Regions from separate parts of the Homo sapiens genome. Here all the other regions are reported to be linked to region 1. Evidence: microRNA targets listed by miRTarBase, many of them from high-throughput screens and not tested one by one. Region 1 holds a microRNA gene; each other region holds the end of a gene's coding sequence.
The links. Region 1 holds the annotated microRNA hsa-miR-3179 (AGAAGGGGUGAAAUUUAAACGU, at 2,106-2,127, opposite strand). A microRNA usually pairs through its seed, bases 2 to 8, with sites in the 3' UTR of a target mRNA and lowers its output. Matches are read on the target gene's strand: a 7mer-m8 pairs with bases 2 to 8, a 7mer-A1 pairs with bases 2 to 7 and ends in A, and an 8mer does both.

Region 2: the mRNA of ADGRL1 is a reported target of hsa-miR-3179. Seed matches in the 3' UTR shown: 7mer-m8 at 2,067-2,073 and 7mer-m8 at 1,610-1,616.
Region 3: the mRNA of FAM228A is a reported target of hsa-miR-3179. Seed matches in the 3' UTR shown: 7mer-m8 at 806-812.
Region 4: miRTarBase lists SDC2 as a target of hsa-miR-3179. Seed matches in the 3' UTR shown: 7mer-m8 at 3,341-3,347.

What each region holds. Positions count from the first base shown.
Region 1 is chr16:18,492,399-18,496,794 of GRCh38, forward strand. It overlaps MIR3179-4 (microRNA 3179-4), which reads right to left and starts at 2,178; the gene lies at 2,095-2,178. All of the region lies in intron 2 of LOC105379460 (a long non-coding RNA gene), which reads left to right.
Region 2 is chr19:14,147,524-14,151,523 of GRCh38, forward strand. ADGRL1 (adhesion G protein-coupled receptor L1) reads right to left here. Exons shown (of 23, transcript NM_014921.5): 23 at 220-4,000. The coding sequence ends at 3,350. All of the region lies in intron 1 of ADGRL1-AS1 (ADGRL1 antisense RNA 1), which reads left to right. Among named protein-coding and RNA genes, the nearest start is that of ADGRL1-AS1, 12 kb to the left of the region's middle. RefSeq lists an enhancer at 355-1,098.
Region 3 is chr2:24,190,367-24,194,366 of GRCh38, forward strand. FAM228A (family with sequence similarity 228 member A) reads left to right here. Exons shown (of 6, transcript NM_001040710.3): 6 at 46-1,332. The coding sequence ends at 265. Among named protein-coding and RNA genes, the nearest start is that of FAM228A, 17 kb to the left of the region's middle.
Region 4 is chr8:96,609,289-96,613,288 of GRCh38, reverse strand. It overlaps SDC2 (syndecan 2), which reads right to left. Exons shown (of 5, transcript NM_002998.4): 5 at 1,499-3,904. The coding sequence ends at 3,741. Among named protein-coding and RNA genes, the nearest start is that of CPQ, 34 kb to the left of the region's middle.

The sequences.
Region 1 (4,396 bases):
TCTCAGTCTTCATAAGGATACCTATTATTCAATCCCGTGGCCTCATCTGTCATCCAAAAACACTCCCAGCTCACCACGTCTCATCTCCAGCCGTGATTTCTCACCCAGGCTGCAGACTCGGGTGTCTGATAAGCATCTCAAACTCACGATGGCCAAAACAGAAGTCTCAATTTACCTACACATTTCAGTGGTTCAGCTAGAAACAAACGATTCACTTATCGTTGATTCCTCCCTTCCCTCACCTCCTGTATTAAATACATCAGCAAGACCTTTCTGCTCTATCTCTGAAGCATAGCCCCAAGCTCACCACTTCCTGCCACTGTTACTTCCATCACCCCAATCCAAGCCATTGCTGTCTTTTGCCTAAACCAACACAACGTCCTCTTTGCTTCTCTCCCTAAATTCATTCTTGCTTCCCAATAATCCAATCTCCTCAAAATTTAAAGAAGCAATTGTTTAAAAACATACATCAGATCACTCCCCTTTCCCTACTTAAACCCTCCAATGCCTTCTGTTGCCATTAGAATAAAATCTAAACTCCTTTCCAGGGCACCCACATGACCCGGTCCCTGCCATCGTTCTCATCTCTTCCTCTCAATCACTTGACTCTGGCCACCCTGGCCTCTTTGCTATTCCTGAAACTCAGGGAGCTCATTTCCTCCTGGGGGCCTTTGCAATTATGGTCCCCTCTGCCTGGGCAGCTCTTCCCCCAGATCTTTGCATAACTGGCCCTTCCCCTCCTCAGGTCTCAGCTCAGATGCTGCCTCCTCAGAGAGACCTTCCATGATACCAATCATCCTCTGTCACATTGCCTTGTTCTGCTTCTTTTCTTCGTAACGCCTGGCATTATCCAACAACTTCTAATGTGTGTGTTTACCTTTCGTCCTCCATCAGCACTGTGCTCCTAAGAGCTGAGGCTCGGTCTCTCTCACACCACTAAACCCCCAGTATGCCAAGCAGCACCCAGCACAGGGGAGATGCTCAGTTAATACTTGTTGAATGAATTAATGATGCTCCCCCTAAAACTAAACTTTACAAAGCACCCACTAGACAACAGGTTAGAAAACATTTTCTAGGCCAGGCGCAGTGGCTCACACCTGTAATCCCAGCACTTTGGGAGGCTGAGGCAGGCAGATCATCTGAGGTCGGGGTTTGAGACCAGCCTGGCCAACATGGTAAAGCCCTGTTTCTACTAAAAATGCAAAAATTAGCCAGGCTTGGTGGCAGGCGCCTATAATCCCAGCTACTAGGGAGGCTGAGGCACGATAATCATTTGAACCCAAGAGGCGGAGGTTGCAGTGAGCTGAGATCACACCACTGCACTCCAGCCTGGGTGACAGAGAAAGACCCCATCTCAAAAACAACAACAACAACAACAAAATGTCTTCTGTAAAGACCCAGATAGCAAGTATTTTAGGCTTTTTAGGCTACCTGGTCTTTGCCACAACTACTTACATCTGGCACTGTCAGGCAAAAGCAGCCATAATCTGCAAATGAATGGGCATGGCTGTGTGCTCATAACACTTTATTTATAAAACAAGAACAGTGGGCCATAGTTTGCTAACCCCTGCACTAGCCCAGTCTAAGTCTTGAATATCATCTGTGTAATTAATTCACAGTGAGGAGTTCTCCACTGTAATAATTACTCATTCCATGAATGCATGCCACTCAGGTGAGGCGTTCTTGAAACTCTGAGAGGCAAGAAGCAAAATGTTCTTTCTCCATACCCAGGCACACTCCAGTCTGTGAAAAGGAAGCAAGAGAGGCAGGCTGCAAGTTTGATCACTGGGTGGCTGCTAGCCACCTCTCCCCCTCAGCTCCAAGAGCAGAAACAGGATGAAAACGCAGCAGCTGCCGGCTTCTGTCCTCTTGCCAGCTGCCTCTCTTGCAAGACTAGACAGGGAGGGGCAGCCGCCAGTCTCCGGAGGCACAGACTGCACAGAATTGAGGATCACTTGTTCCAATGCATTCATCTTATCTTACAAAATCTTCAAATTCCAAAAAGCACACGTAAGAAGGGCTGCTGTTTCATTCACACAGTGAAATATTGTGCATCTGAAAGAATATGTAGATGGGTGGCATCTTCAACAACCCCAGGATCACAGACGTTTAAATTTCACCCCTTCTACTGCTGTAAGGCACAGCAGAAGGAGTGTAATTTAAACGTCTGTGATCCTGGCTGGGCGTGGTGACTCTTGCCTGTAATCCCAACACTTAGGGAGCCCAAGGTGGGAGGATTGCTTGAGCTCAGGAGTTCAAGACCAGCCTGGGCAACCTAGTGAGAGCTCATCTCTACAAAGATTTTTTTTAAAAAAATTAGCCAGGTGTGGTGGTGCACTCCTGTAGTCCCAGCTACTCAGCAGGCTGAGGCACGATGATCCCTTGACCCTGGGAGATCAAGGCTGCAGTGAGCTGTGATGGTGCCATTGTACTCCAGCCTGGGGAACAGAACAAGAACCCATCTAAAAAAAAAAAAAGAAAGAAAAGTTCATATTCCAACCAAGATCTCACCATTACATCATCAAGCATAAACACCTGCCCCCACTGAAAAAGTACAGAGGAAGGCAGTCATATAATATCTTCCCTCCTGACCTCACCAAGTTCCAGGGCAGGAAGAGTCTCGCCACCCCAGCACACAGTAGGCCCACTGGAAAATGAGTGCTCCCTTCTCTAGGCATTTCATTGTCATGGTCATAAAGTCAGGTTCATTTTTCTAATGAAAGAGAAAGCCAAAAATGGAGGCTGATTTTTTTCTTTTTTCTTTTTTTTTTTTTTTAGTCTCACTCTGTCGCCAGGCTAGAGTGCAATGGTGCGATCTCGGCTCACTGCAACCTCCGACTCCCTGGATCAAGTGATTCTCCTGTCAGCCTATCGAGTGGCTGGGACTACAGGCGCCCACCACCACACCTAGCTAATTTTTGTAGTTTTAGTAGAGACAGGGTTTCACCATATTGGCCAGGATGGTCTCGATCTCTTGACCTCATGATCTGCCCATCTCAACCTCCCAAAGTGCTGGGATTACAGGCATGAGCCACCACACCGGGCCTGGAGGGTGATTTTGACCAGGCCTTCTCAAGTTTTGGAAGGAAGTGGAGCTGACTTCTCTTCTGTTGCTTTTGCCCACCCAGGATCACTTATTCCTCTGGGTAATACAGCACCCCAGGCACAGGGGCCGCCTGTCACATGAGCGTGGGCATGGCTCATGTGCGGCCAGGCCCCAGTGATTCTGCAAAGGTTGCCCATAAGTCCTTCCCCCGCCCCAGGACTGGCATATTGATGTGGTGGGATGGAAGCTGTCCTTCTGCTGGGTCTGCAGATGGGGGCAATGTAAAGCCTGACATTGCCGGATGATGTCAGAAGCGGAACCCATAGGCAAAAGCCAGCTTTCCAGCACTCCACTCTCAGTTTCCTGCCATCTCCACTTCTGTGGATGTGTGCCCGGCATCTGCCTCTGCCCCTGCCTCTGAGAGCAGTGACTGAGCAAACAGTCCTGGACCTGGTTGAAAGGATGGGCCTGTCTGTTTCTAGCAGAGTGGTCTTTCAGAAAGCTGATTCCTGAAAGTTGGCATCAAGGGAAGCAGAGCCAGGAGGTGGAAATTGAGACTGGGTCCCGCTATGCATGAAGCCAGAGACTCTTGGATTTCTCCGTTACTTGACCAGAGGAATGCCCCATTTTGCTCAAGCTAGTTGGAGTTGGATTTCTGTTACTTGAAACCAAGAGAGCCTTAACTAATACACAACTAGAAATGCATCCATGGTCACTGCCCATTCATGTGACAGACATTTATTGAGCACTATTCCAGTTACCTAATGTTGCATGAGTTACCCCAAAACTTAGAGGCTTAATTCAGTCGTATAAGATATTCACAGATCCCGTGGGTCAAGAATTTGGGAAGACACTGTAGGTTGAACTTTGTTCTCTGCTTTGTCTTTCTTGGAAAGAGAGGACACAGCTTGAAGTCATTACTGATTTGGGACTGTATGTAATGCATATCTGTGCTTCATTGTCACTGTGTTTTTAAGTTTTCTAAACTTAAAACAGCTCATTTTCGGGGGACATAAAGAACCTGGGAAGAGCTCAGCTGGGCAGCACTGACCTGGGGTCTCTTGAGTGGTGGAAGTCAGATGTCATCTGCAGTTGCACTCACCAGAAGGCTTGACCGGGGCGGGGAAATTCACTTCCAAGCTGGCTCACTCACGTGGTGGCAAGCTGTACATGCTGGGGGCCAGGGGCCTCACCCCTCCCCACGAGGCTGCCTGAGCACCCTCACGCAAGGCAGTTGGCTTCCCGAGAGCCAAAGTGCAATGCCTGTTACGACCTAGCCCGAGAAGTCACACATCATCACTCACTTCCACCACTTCCCACTGGTCGCACAGAGCCAGCCTGATTCAGTGT
Region 2 (4,000 bases), not on the chromosome of region 1:
GCTGGGACCACAGGTGCTTGCCACCACGCCCAGCTAATTTTGTCTTTTTAGTAGAGATGGGGTTTCACCATGTTGACTAGGCTAGTCTCAAACTCCTGGCCTCAAGTGATCCACCCACCTCGGCCTCCCAAAATGCTGGGATTACAGGCCTGAGCCACCGCGCCCAGCTATTCACCCATTTCTTACTCCCCCACTCAAGAAGTCACACCACTCTTGTCATTCCAAGAAATCTTAATTTCTTTATTGTTTGACTTTTTGACTCAACAATTTTTTTAAAACTTTTTGTTTTTTTCTGAAACGTTCTTGTTGTTATGAGCCTTTTGTTTTGTTCTCGTTAAATGCACTCGACCCAAAATTGGTTTGGCATATCGAAAAGGAGACCAAGGAGGGAGGGGCTGGGGCGTGGGAGGTGGGGAGGAGGCCCGAATGGACAGAAAGTTGAGGATAAGAGAAGAGGAACATAGAGACAGCCAGAAAGACATGGGGAAAGAGTGTTGGAGACAGAGAAAGGGGAAGGCAAGGGAAAGCCAAAAGAAACCAAAATCCAGAGAAAAAGAATTAACAAGATTTAGGAGCAAACGAGTTCAGGAGCCTAAGGAAGGGAGTAGGAGAGGAAACCAAGACCCTTCTCTGTACCGTCCCAGCTGGGGTGGGGGCGTCAAGGCACCAGGTCTGGTTAGGTTGGGGGGACACCTGGGCTCTGGGGGCGGCTTTGCACTGGACTGCAGTGATGTCCAGCCCCAGCAGGGGGCCCTGCCACACAGCTCTGAGGCCTGGAAGCCACCCGGCGATGCCGGCTGGAACAGGACCCGATACACCCTCTCTCCCTTTGATTGTCCGAGTCTGGAGAGATACAAGGAAGGCTGGGCAGGGAGGAAGTTGGCCTCTCTGTGTGCCTCAGCCCCCTGGAACTCTCCTGGCCCTCCTCCTGGTGTCGGGGGCAGCCACAGGCTGGGCTGCTTCCCGGGACAGGCCAGCTCCTCGCCTGCTCATGCCTCCTGCCCGCTCTTCACAGACCTCTGACCACCCCTCCACACAACAGAGCTCCCAGCCTAGTGCAGTCCGGGAAGGGCCATGGAACTGTCCCTTGCCCTCCTCAGAGTCGTCTGGCAAGACTGTCCCTGGCCTCACTTCTCCTCCCCATCTAGACTTCACCCATGGTCTTCTGGTGTAATGGGTTAGGCCTTTCTACCAGAAAAAGCCAGAGTTGGAACCCAACCCCACCTCTTCCCCACACCTGTTCCCTTACACGGGACAAACCACCATCTTTGGTCTGACCCCTTCTCCCCTAATTGATGGGGACAAGCCAGCCCCAGCTCCCCGGGAGAAGGGAGGGGCTTTCTAGCAGCAAAAAGGGTCCCTCCAGCCACCTACCTGTCCCCTTCCCCCCAGTTCCTTCCTAGAGCCCCTCCCCCTTAACCCAACAAAGTTCATGGCAGCAGCAGGCTGAGACCCGAAGATGTTTGAAAACTCATGGCACTTGTGAGAAAAGGAGGGGCAGAGAGATGGGGAGAGGTCAGAGCAGAGGTGGAGGGGCCACCTCTGGGGAAACGGCAATGCAGGGGCTGGGCTAGGGTGGCCTGGGGCTATGCTGCCCCTAGAGTTGAGGGAAGGGGGCTGGGGAGGCTGGCCTGACAGGCTGGAGAGGAGGGGGCCGGGACAGGTGCTCAGGACACATCCCGAGCCTGGAGCTTCCGGGGTCTGGGATTTGGGGTCAAGCCGCCCAGAACATGGGTGTCCCGACCCCAGCCCTGGCACCTGGCTTCGTCTTCCCTGCGGGAAGGTGGAGGATAGGGAAGGTGATCTCTCACCTTTGCCCCTCCCCATCCCCCAGACCGCCTTGCCGTTCCCAGCACCCTCCTCAGCCATACCCATGCCCTCCACAACCCCAGTGCCTCCCCATTTTCCTTCTGCCATCAACCTCTCTAGGTGGGAAATCAGCCCCATCTTCCCCGGCGAGAGTCCCCAGAGCAATATACAAGAAGCAGGAACTCAAAGGGACAGCGCAGCCATCTTGACAAAGCATCTTTGGGTGTGAAGAGGTCTCCCCCGGGCCGGTGGGGAGGGAAGGGGGAGACAGGCCTCTGGTCCTGGGGCAGGCAGTGAGAGGTACACGCCCCAGAAGGGCTGATGATGCCGGGCAGGCGGAGCAGGAAAGGAGGGTGCCAGGAAGGAAATGGGTTCTTTGTTTCGCTGTTGCATCTAGATTTTGTTTTCTGTCTCTGGATTGTAAAAAGCTGCTCTGGCGGCCCGCCCGCCCCGGCGGGGACTGGGGATGCACGTACACGGAGAAGTCCTGGCTGCCAGGCCAGCAGCGCTGCTCTGCTCCGGAGAAAGCCCGGGCTGGCCCGGGCCGCAGGCTCCCGGTGGCTTCAAGTGATGAGATTTTTTTTCTTTTCTTTTTTTTTTTTTTTGTCTTTTTTTTTTCTTTTCCATTTCGTTGAAATATTTACAGCAATGGGGAAGGAGGAGGAGAGAGGAAGGAGTAAGAGGGCCCCCTAGGGAAAGATCCAAGCCCAGGACCCACTCCCCAGGGAGATCCAGACCCAAAATCTGCTCCCCAGATAGCCGAGCCCACAGGACTGGGAACTGCCCAAATATGGCCACCCCTGTGGGCTGGGGGCCCTGCGGGGAGTTGTGCTTCATCAGGAGTCGCCCCAAGGGAGGGGGTCATTGGGTGCACTGGGAGGCAGAGGGGGCAGGTTTGCTTGCGGGGCAGGGACCAAGAGCAAGGGGAAAGGAGCTTCAGAGAAAGTTCAACCTTTAAACCACCAGCCACCACCGCCCAGTCCCCCTGCCCTGCGGCCTTTTCCCAGTCTCCAGGGAGCAGGGAATTACAGCGCAGGAGGAACCTGTCCATCTGTCCTGCCTCACTGCTCCCTCTGGGTGCAGCCGGCAGCATTTCTGGCTGCGGAGAGGAGCAGCTAACAGGTTCCATCCAGTGGGGGCCTTTGGCAACCTCAGAAGCTGCCCCTCCCTGCCCAGGAAACTAAAGCCCTCATTTCCCTTCACAGGGTAGAAGGGTGGGAGAGGGGAGAGTCTGGAAGTGGGCTGCACCCTTCCAAGTTCTCCCTCCTCACTCCCCTGGGGTCCTCTGGGCTCCTCCTCACTACACTTCCCCCAAATAGAGCTGGTGCGTGTGGCTGGTGGGAAACCCTGTCTGTGAACCCTGGCACCTCAGGCCCCCAGGTTAGAGTCCCCTGAGGGGACTGTAGGGCCCATGGCTGAGGGGCACCTGGAGAGAGTGGCCCACCAGCCACTGCCTCCATCTGTCTCCCTCTCCCACCAGAGCCCTGCCCAGGGTTCCCTCCCTGGCCTGGGCCACCAGCCCCTGGTCCATGAGGTGCCCTCAGAGACTGGTGACCAGCTGCATCTGCCCGTCCCCATCGGGCCCTGGCCCCTCAAGGCCTGGGGCTGCCAGGTAGCCCTCGTGGCTAGGACGCCGCACCTGGTAGTAGCCCTGCAGGGGATTCCGGGCCACCAGGGCTGGCGGGCGCGAGGTGTAGTAGATTTCGGGGGGGCCGGGGGGTGCGGGAGGGGGTGGGGGCAGGGCCTCACTGGGCCCCTCAGGGCTGCTGTCCGGGTAGGAGGGTGAGTCCCGCAGGTTGGCCCCGCTGGCATAGAGGGAGTCCCGGCCAGGAGGGGAGGAGAGGGGCCGGCTGGTGGCGCCGTCCTCGGCCGTGCAGCTCTCCGACTCGTCCAGATCGCTCTGGTACAGCACCGACTGGGCCCGGGGCAGCAGCAGAGGCTCCTCCAGGGCCTTATAGAGAAGTTCAATCTCGGCCCGGTCAGCACCCCCGGGCCCGCCCGCCTCTTCCTCGCCCCCGCCCCCTGGCACAGGTGGCACAGGGGGCTCAGGCGGTGGAGGGCCCTTGGCCGCGCTGCTGCTCCCCCGCAGGTTGTTGTGCACCAGCTCTGAGATGATCATCTTCTCAAAGGCCGCCGCATCGGCTAGGTTCCGGCCTCGGGGCGGCTCAGGGCCCCCATCCCCGGGAGGGAA
Region 3 (4,000 bases), not on the chromosome of region 1:
CCATCTGTGCTGAATCGAGACAATTTTTTCTGCTTTTCTTCACAGTCCTGAAAAGCTCATCTATGCAGACAAGAAACAGAAAAGAAAAGAGAAAAAGACGGCCGACCTAAGTCAGGCTGCGTTTGAAAGGCAGTTCCTTTCCTCAAAGCTCAGCCAGAAGAACAAAGTGGGTGAAAGAAAGGGTCTGGTGAGCAGAGGCCTGGGGCGGGGCTGGCATGCAGGGCTTTGCAGCACCCACGAGCAGCACATACTGGTTCCAGAATGAGCCACCGCCACAGCCCTCCCTGTCAGACAGGCACCCAAGGGCGGAGGAGGCATGGCCCAAGAAGAAGGGTGTGAAGAGGAGGAGGGAGAAATGGCGGTGGCCTCAGGCTCAGCACTGCAGCTCTGACAGGGCCCCTCGGGCGGGGAAGCCTTGCATGAAGAAACTCAGACAAGTGGTAAATGTGGGACCTGGACCCCACTTTCCGGAGACATCCTGTCCTTCCGAGGTGAGGGCCAACCTGGCCACAGGGGCTTTTCCCCCTGAGATTTCTTCAGCGCCTTCGCCCGGGCCTTTGCCCTTCTGCCACTTTCCTACCATTTTCCACTTACTCCATCCAAACTGCACCAAAGATGGTGTTCTCCTTAGTCCACACACAACTGGTGGGAAGTTTTTGAAATGAAATTTATACCAAAAAATTAGGGCAAGATGAGATTTTTTGATATTTAAAAGGTATTTTTATATGTAGGAATTTTCTGAGTATGGATTTCTTATCCAGAGCTCATGGTTCATTTGACACAGTTTTCAGCTCCTGGTCTATTTCCCCTTCCATTCTCTCCGCCACGCCCTGTGCCCTGAGGCCTGAGGCGCAGGACCCTCCCAGGGAAGGCCTAGGGGGCTTGGTGGGCCACCGCTCAGCTCAGGACCTGACAGCGTCACTCCCACCCTCACCACCACACACACAGGATGGGGGACTGCTGCTGCTTTCCAGCCTGTGAGCCTGGATAGGTATTTTGTGACCCAGCTCCTGCTCAGTCCCATCGCTGTCCCCGGTCTCTCCAGGGAGTAAGGGATTCTCCGTCTGTGGTAAGTTACCTGTGACTCTTCAGCAGTTTCCTCTGAGCATAATTATATCTGAGAGCACAGGGAGCTCCTCATTCCATGTATTTTTCAAATATTCAAGATGTACAACGTGATGATTTGCTATAGGTATTCATTGTGAAATGTTTGCCACAGTCAAGCTTGTTGACATACCCACCAGCTCACATTTACTGTTTTCGTGTGTGTGGTGAGAATACTCACAATCTACTCTCTGAGCAAACTGCAAATATATGTTATTAGTAACTGTAGTATCTGTGTTGTCCATTAGGCCTCTAGAACCTACTGTTACTCATGGAGGGTCTTCACTATGAGTTGTTCAGGTCCTTGGCATTTTGAACAAAGAATTGACCAAAACACACAGAGTAGCAGAGGAATGAAACGCGGGAGCGAAGCAGCGAAAGCAGAGATTTATTCAAGACAGAAAGCTCTGCAGGGTGGGAGCAGACCCAGCAAGGGCTCAAGGGTGTTAAGTTCCCTGTTTGAGGTTCTTATCTGCTACCCCTTATCTGGATGAAGGATTTGGTCCCTGGCTAATTAAAGGCTGAGGTGAATTGGCGCTCTACGCAGATGAAGGGATGGTCCCTGTGTTGGCTGCAGCTAATCCAGGGCACTCTCCCTTTCCATCTAAGACGTTATAGGGAGAGTAGCCTTTGATCTTTTGCTGCTTGGCTTGGGGAGATGGGGTTTTCTGTTTGGTTCCGCTTTCAGAAGTGTGTGTTAATTGGCCTCAGGTTCCCTGCCCCCAGACCCAGGTGTTTTCCTTTTGACCCAGCTTTGGGAAGGCAGCTCGAATTGGCCTTGGATTTCCTGCGCCCAGACCTTGCTGTTTTCTCAGACCTTGCTGTTGTCCCTGTCTCCAGACCCTGTTCTCCTGCCTCAGTACTTACCACAGAAAGTTTGTACCCTTTGACCAACACCTGTCACCTCACTGCCCCCACGCCCTGACTCTGGTATCCACCCTTCTACTCTGGATGGGTTTGACATCTTTAGATACCACATATTGTTACAGGAAAGGGGTCCTGATCCAGACCTCAAGAGAGGTTTGTTGGATCTCAAGCAAGAAAGAATTCACGGCCAGTCCACAGTGCAAAGTGAAAGCAAGTTTATTGAGAAAGTAAAGGAATAAAAGAACGACGACTCCATAGAGCAGCCCTGAGGGCTGCTGGTTGCCCATTTTGTGGTTATTTCTTGATGATATGCTAAATAAGGGGTGGATTATTCTTGCCTCCCCTTTTAGACCATATAGGATAACTTTCTGACCTTGCCATGGCATCTATAAACTGTCATGGCGCTGGTGGGAGTGTAGCAGTGAGGGTGACGAGAGGTCATTGTCGTCGCCATCTTGGTTTTGGTGGGTTTTGGCTGGCTCTTTTTTATTAGCCTGTTTTATCAGCAAGGTCTTTATGACCTGTATTTTGTGCTGACCTCCTATCTCATCCTGTGAGTTAGAATGCCTCACCGTCTGGGAATGCAACCCAGTAGGCTTTAGCCTTATTTTACCCAGCTCCTATTTAAGATGGAGTTGCCCTGGTTCACACACCTCTGACAATATGAGATCAGGCAGTATTTGTCTTTCTGTGCCTGGCTTCTTTCACTTACCATAACATCCTCCACATTCACCTATGTTGTTGCAAATGACAGGACTTCCTTCTCTTCTCAGGCGGGTTATTGGTCCATGGTATGTGTACCATATGCATTTTCTTTACCAGTTCATGTCAGCAGACACTTAGGTTGTTCCCATTTCTTGGCTATTGTGAATAATGCTGCAGTGAACACGGGAGTGTAGATATCCCTTCAAGATGGTGATTTTATTTCCTTTGAATATATGTATATACACCTGGAAGTGGGATTGCTGAATTGTATGGTCATTCTATTTTTAGTTTTTTTTGGAAACCTCCATGCTGTTTTCCGTAATGGCTGTAGTGATCTACATTCCACCAACAGTGTACAAGGGTACTGTTATTTTTTTTTTTAATTTTATTATTATTATACTTTAAGTTTTAGGGTACATGTGCACAATGTGCAGGTTTGTTACATATGTATACATGTGCCATGTTGGTGTGCTGTACCCATTAACTCGTCATTTAGCATTAGGTATATCTGCTAATGCTATCCCTCCCCCGCTCCCCCAACCCCACAACAGTCTCCGGAGTGTGATGTTCCCCTTCCTGTGTCCATGTGTTCTCACTGTTCAATTCCCACCTATGAGTGAGAACATGCAGCGTTTGGTTTTTTGTCCTTGCGATAGTTTGCTGAGAATGATGGTTTCCAGTTTCATCCATGTCCCTACAAAGGACATGAACTCATCATTTTTTATGGCTGCATAGTATTCCATGGTGTATATGTGCCACATTTTCTTAATCCAGTCTATCGTTGTTGGACATTTAGGTTGGTTCCAAGTCTTTGCTATTGTGAATAGTGCTGCTATAAACATATGTGTGCATGTGTCTTTATAGCAGCATGATTTATAATCCTTTGGGTATATACCCAGTAATGGGATGGCTGGGTCAAATGGTATTTCTAGTTCTAGATCCCTGAGGAATCACCACACTGACTTCCACAATGGTTGAACTAGTTTACAGTCCCACCAACAGTGTAAAAGTGTTCCTATTTCTCCACATCCTCTCCAGCACCTGTTGTTTCCTGACTTTTTAATGATCGCCATTCTAACTGGTGTGAGATGGTATCTCATTGTGGTTTTGATTTGCATTTCTCTGATGGCCAGTGATGATGAGCATTTTTTCATGTGATTTTTGGCTGCATAAATGTCTTCTTTTGAGAAGTGTCTGTTCATGTCGTTCACCCACTTTTTGATGGGGTTGTTTGTTTTTTTCTTGTAAATTTGTTTGAGTTCATTGTAGATTCTGGATATTAGCCCTTTGTCAGATGAGTAGGTTGCAAAAATTTTCTCGCATT
Region 4 (4,000 bases), not on the chromosome of region 1:
GATTTTATTTCCACTCTGCAACCCACACCAAGTTCATGAAAGCTCCACGTGAGCAGGGTCCTTGTCTGTGTAGTTCACCGCCATACCTTCTGCTTCTTTAAGTTTCCAGTGCATAGTCAGGCAAATATTTGACTGAACTTCTGATGGATTGCACATACAAGCATTTGTTTTTTGAATGCTATTTTGCCAACAAAACTGGAATAAATGCATCTTGCACTCAGCATCTCTGAAGCACCAAAGCCTAACATTTCACTCTGCTATTTGCGGGTTGGATTGACGGCTTGGGTTACACCCTTCCAGCTAATTCGCAGGAAACCAAGTTGCTCTCAGAGTTGCCACGATTCCATGGTCAGAAAAGGCCCTGCTAAAGACCATATACAGCAGATAAACAAAAATAAATGAAACTTTACAACCATAAACTGTAAGAGTGAAGTCACCCAGAGTTTGGAGACAGAGTGGGACAGAAGTGATTTTGGTAACTGTTTTTATCACTGAAAGATGTGGTTTTACCCTTTTAAAGTTTTTTGTGCTGACTTAATGTAATTCCCCAGAAATGGCCAAGTCTCAAATTTCACAATTGTCATAAAATATTAGAACCAAAAAAAACCTTAGTGATCACTCACTTCAGATTACTCCATTTATCATCTGGCTTAATTTTAATTGGAAACCTCTTAGGGTCTCACCGATGTCTGGTGTGGGCTTAGAATTTAGAAGTTCACATTAGAGATAGTGTAGCTCAAAGTTGTTGCCTTTTTTGGTACTACCAAGTATGTTTAAAAATATTTTTTTCTCTACCACCCCCTTATGAAATTATAGTAATGCTATAAAGATCACACTTATAAAATTAACCCCACAATATTTCTAGGTTTTATATTTTTGCTCACCTAACATCTTTCCTTGATGTTTCAAAATGTCTAAGATATTGAAGAAATAAGCTCCTTAGAACTATGAAGTAGGACACAGTAGTTTCTTTAGGGACACTTGAAGAAAGTAATCATATTCTATTTAATTAGCTTACTCTCCTAGACCTAACAGACTACATCCATAACAAGTACATTTTGTCTAACTTGCAAAAAAGTGCATGGACAAAAATTCAGTAAACGTTTGATGAGAAACTATCAACCCTTAAGAAATGGCAATTTTTATAATCTTGTTCACTTTTATTAAACAGGTCCTAATCCTGAAATTCAGGTACTACGCACCTGCAACTAAAACTGAAAAACAAAAATAAAACCCAAGTGCTTCCTATTCCCCCTACGGGCTGAAAATGGGACAGTGTGACTATCTCAAGTCTCTCAAACACAAAGCCATATTCACTCAAGAGAAATCGTTTACATGTGGTTAAGGAAACAGGAAATTTTCACATTGGCTTTAATATTTACATTTTACCAAAATTTTCCTGAACTCAGTAATCATTACTAACACTTTTTATAGTATTATTTACTGCATCTTAAAAAAAAAAAACTAAGCAGAAAGTGTACAGTTGAAGAAAACTGGATGTCAGTCTATACAATGATTTACTTTTGGCATGACAGACTTTATTTTGGCACTTTCACAAATATTTTGCTTTACAGCAGTGACAAAATATTTGCCAGAAATTTTTCTTTTCCTGGCACGGATATTCCCAGCAGTTGTTATTCTATGAATTGAATTTCACTCTGCTTTGCACAGTTAGAGGTATACCCATTCCTACCCTCTGTAATTGAGGGACACAGCGTGGCTTTAGAAAGCTAGGCTATCGTTTCCTTTTAGTCACTCTAAAGTGAATTGGTTCTGTAAGTGATGGGGCAGGAATCTGAGAATTAATTAAGGCCATTAAGGATTTAAAGTAAACACTGTTCCAAGTGTTGCTTAAAAAAATGTTTTTAATGAATTATGTGGCAATTCCAGGGAATGTTCTCAAAATGAAATATTCATACTTTATTAAAAGTAAATTGTATGTTGGAAAAGTTGCTTTTTTTGCTGTCTTCTTCTGACTTGGACGGCTCACAGTTTAAAACAAAATTAGTGGTAAAATAGAAAAAGGAAATGTTTAGTACAGAAAGTACCAGCCACAGTACCCTCATAACTCCATCTCCTTCCCCAGGCATCACTCTTTCCAGCCACTTCAATCCTAAAGCAGTGAGACCCTCATTTTAACACACAGAGCCTCCCTGCCTACCCTCCTTCCCTGTAACGTGAGCTACTGTAGTCCATTTATTAGTTCTTCGGTTAAGCTTCAGTAGACATTTGGAGCACAATTCCAAAGGTAAATCAATCTATAGGCCTAAGCCTTAGATACCAACATCAGGAAAGCCCCATTCAGATCTTTGGAATTTACAGTCTTGTAAGTTATTTGCAAAAGCAGGCGTCTGTCTTAATATTGCCATCAGTTATCCTATAAAGGTTGCAAACTTCGAAATCCCCTGGCAGCCTTCCAATATCTCTACCTAGACACACACAGGATAATACATTCAGATTTCCTCTGGCCAATTCAGAAGTGAATCTGGTAATAAACAGTCTCATCGACAGGCTCTTTGGTCTTGATTTACAGACACTGTGAAACACTTAGAAATCAAACCCACGTCATCCTTGAGAGCAGACGGCCGTTAGCAAAGGGGAGATGTACATTTGATCAAAAATGTACAAAATTTATAACAGTGACATTTTCAATATTAGGCCACATGATTTATTCAGTAGTTTTTATGTTCCCAAATTACAATTTATGTCTATTCATAAGACTACAAAAGTTACCATTAGAATTGTCTGTGCTTATAAAATACCAACTTTTTTTTTAAACTGTTACATATACTCATTAACACCAGTCTGCAACAAGTTACATAGAATCAGAGGCACTTCAAAGGCTTAAAAAGACGTTTACAACTTAAATGCATTTTTAAGAACAAAAACTGATTTTTCTTTAAACCTCTACTCGTACCTTCAAATTGCAAGAAATTAACAAATACAGTGGCCAAAGGAATCTGCAGCAACTTCTTAAAATACTGTTAACATCTTTGGGTTTGCTGAGGCTTGTCAGTAACTTACATCAAATCCTCCCAAAAGAAGATCTGATTAGATAGATATGACTAAACGGTTTTGTAGTAATAATCCAATTTTACACATTAATTTGCTGTTGCAAATCTGCCCAAAGCTACAGGTAATGAAAAATAAAGCAAGTGTAAAATGGATAGTCTGACACTTAAAAATTTATACAAAGTGGAAGTTAAAGTTTACATATTTGAAAATCACATATACACTAAATTACCATTATCTGAATTTTCCAAAGACAAATTGCACCATGACAGCTACAAAAGGCATAGGGTTTGGTTTTAAGGGCACAAGAAGGGAGGGCAGAGGAGAGGAAGGGGACAACAGATAAATTAACAAAGTAAGACCAACTTGGTAAGGTCAATCTGAGACATGCTGACACAAATGAAACAGCTTTCATCTTTGAGTCATAGGAAAAAGACAATCATTTTGTATTTGCGCATAAAAGTTTAAACCAATTCCATGAACATCGAGGGTTTTCATAACATAATATTTTGCCACTGCTATTCACAGAACACTGCAGATGTTAAATTTTAATTTTATGTTGTTCTAAAGAAATACATGAAATGTTTTAAATACAATGGGATTTTATCATTAAAGTGCCAGAATGGCTCTTTAATGAAAACAAAAAACAAAGATCTTCATTATTCTATGCAAAAGCTTTATTTTGAAAAGTTCAGTGATCTCATAAATAGAGACACTAAGTTGGAGTTTTACGCATAAAACTCCTTAGTAGGTGCCTTCTGATAAGCAGCACTGGATGGTTTGCGTTCTCCAAGGTCATAGCTTCCTTCATCCTTCTTTCTCATGCGATACACCAACAGCAGGATAAGAAAAATTGCAAAGAGAAAGCCAATAACTCCACCAGCAATGACAGCTGAAACAACCAAAAGGAAGATTACTTTAGAAGAGATTCAAGGGTTGCAGACATTAGCTTTATTGTCAAGCCTAATCTACTTACACTTTTATAAAA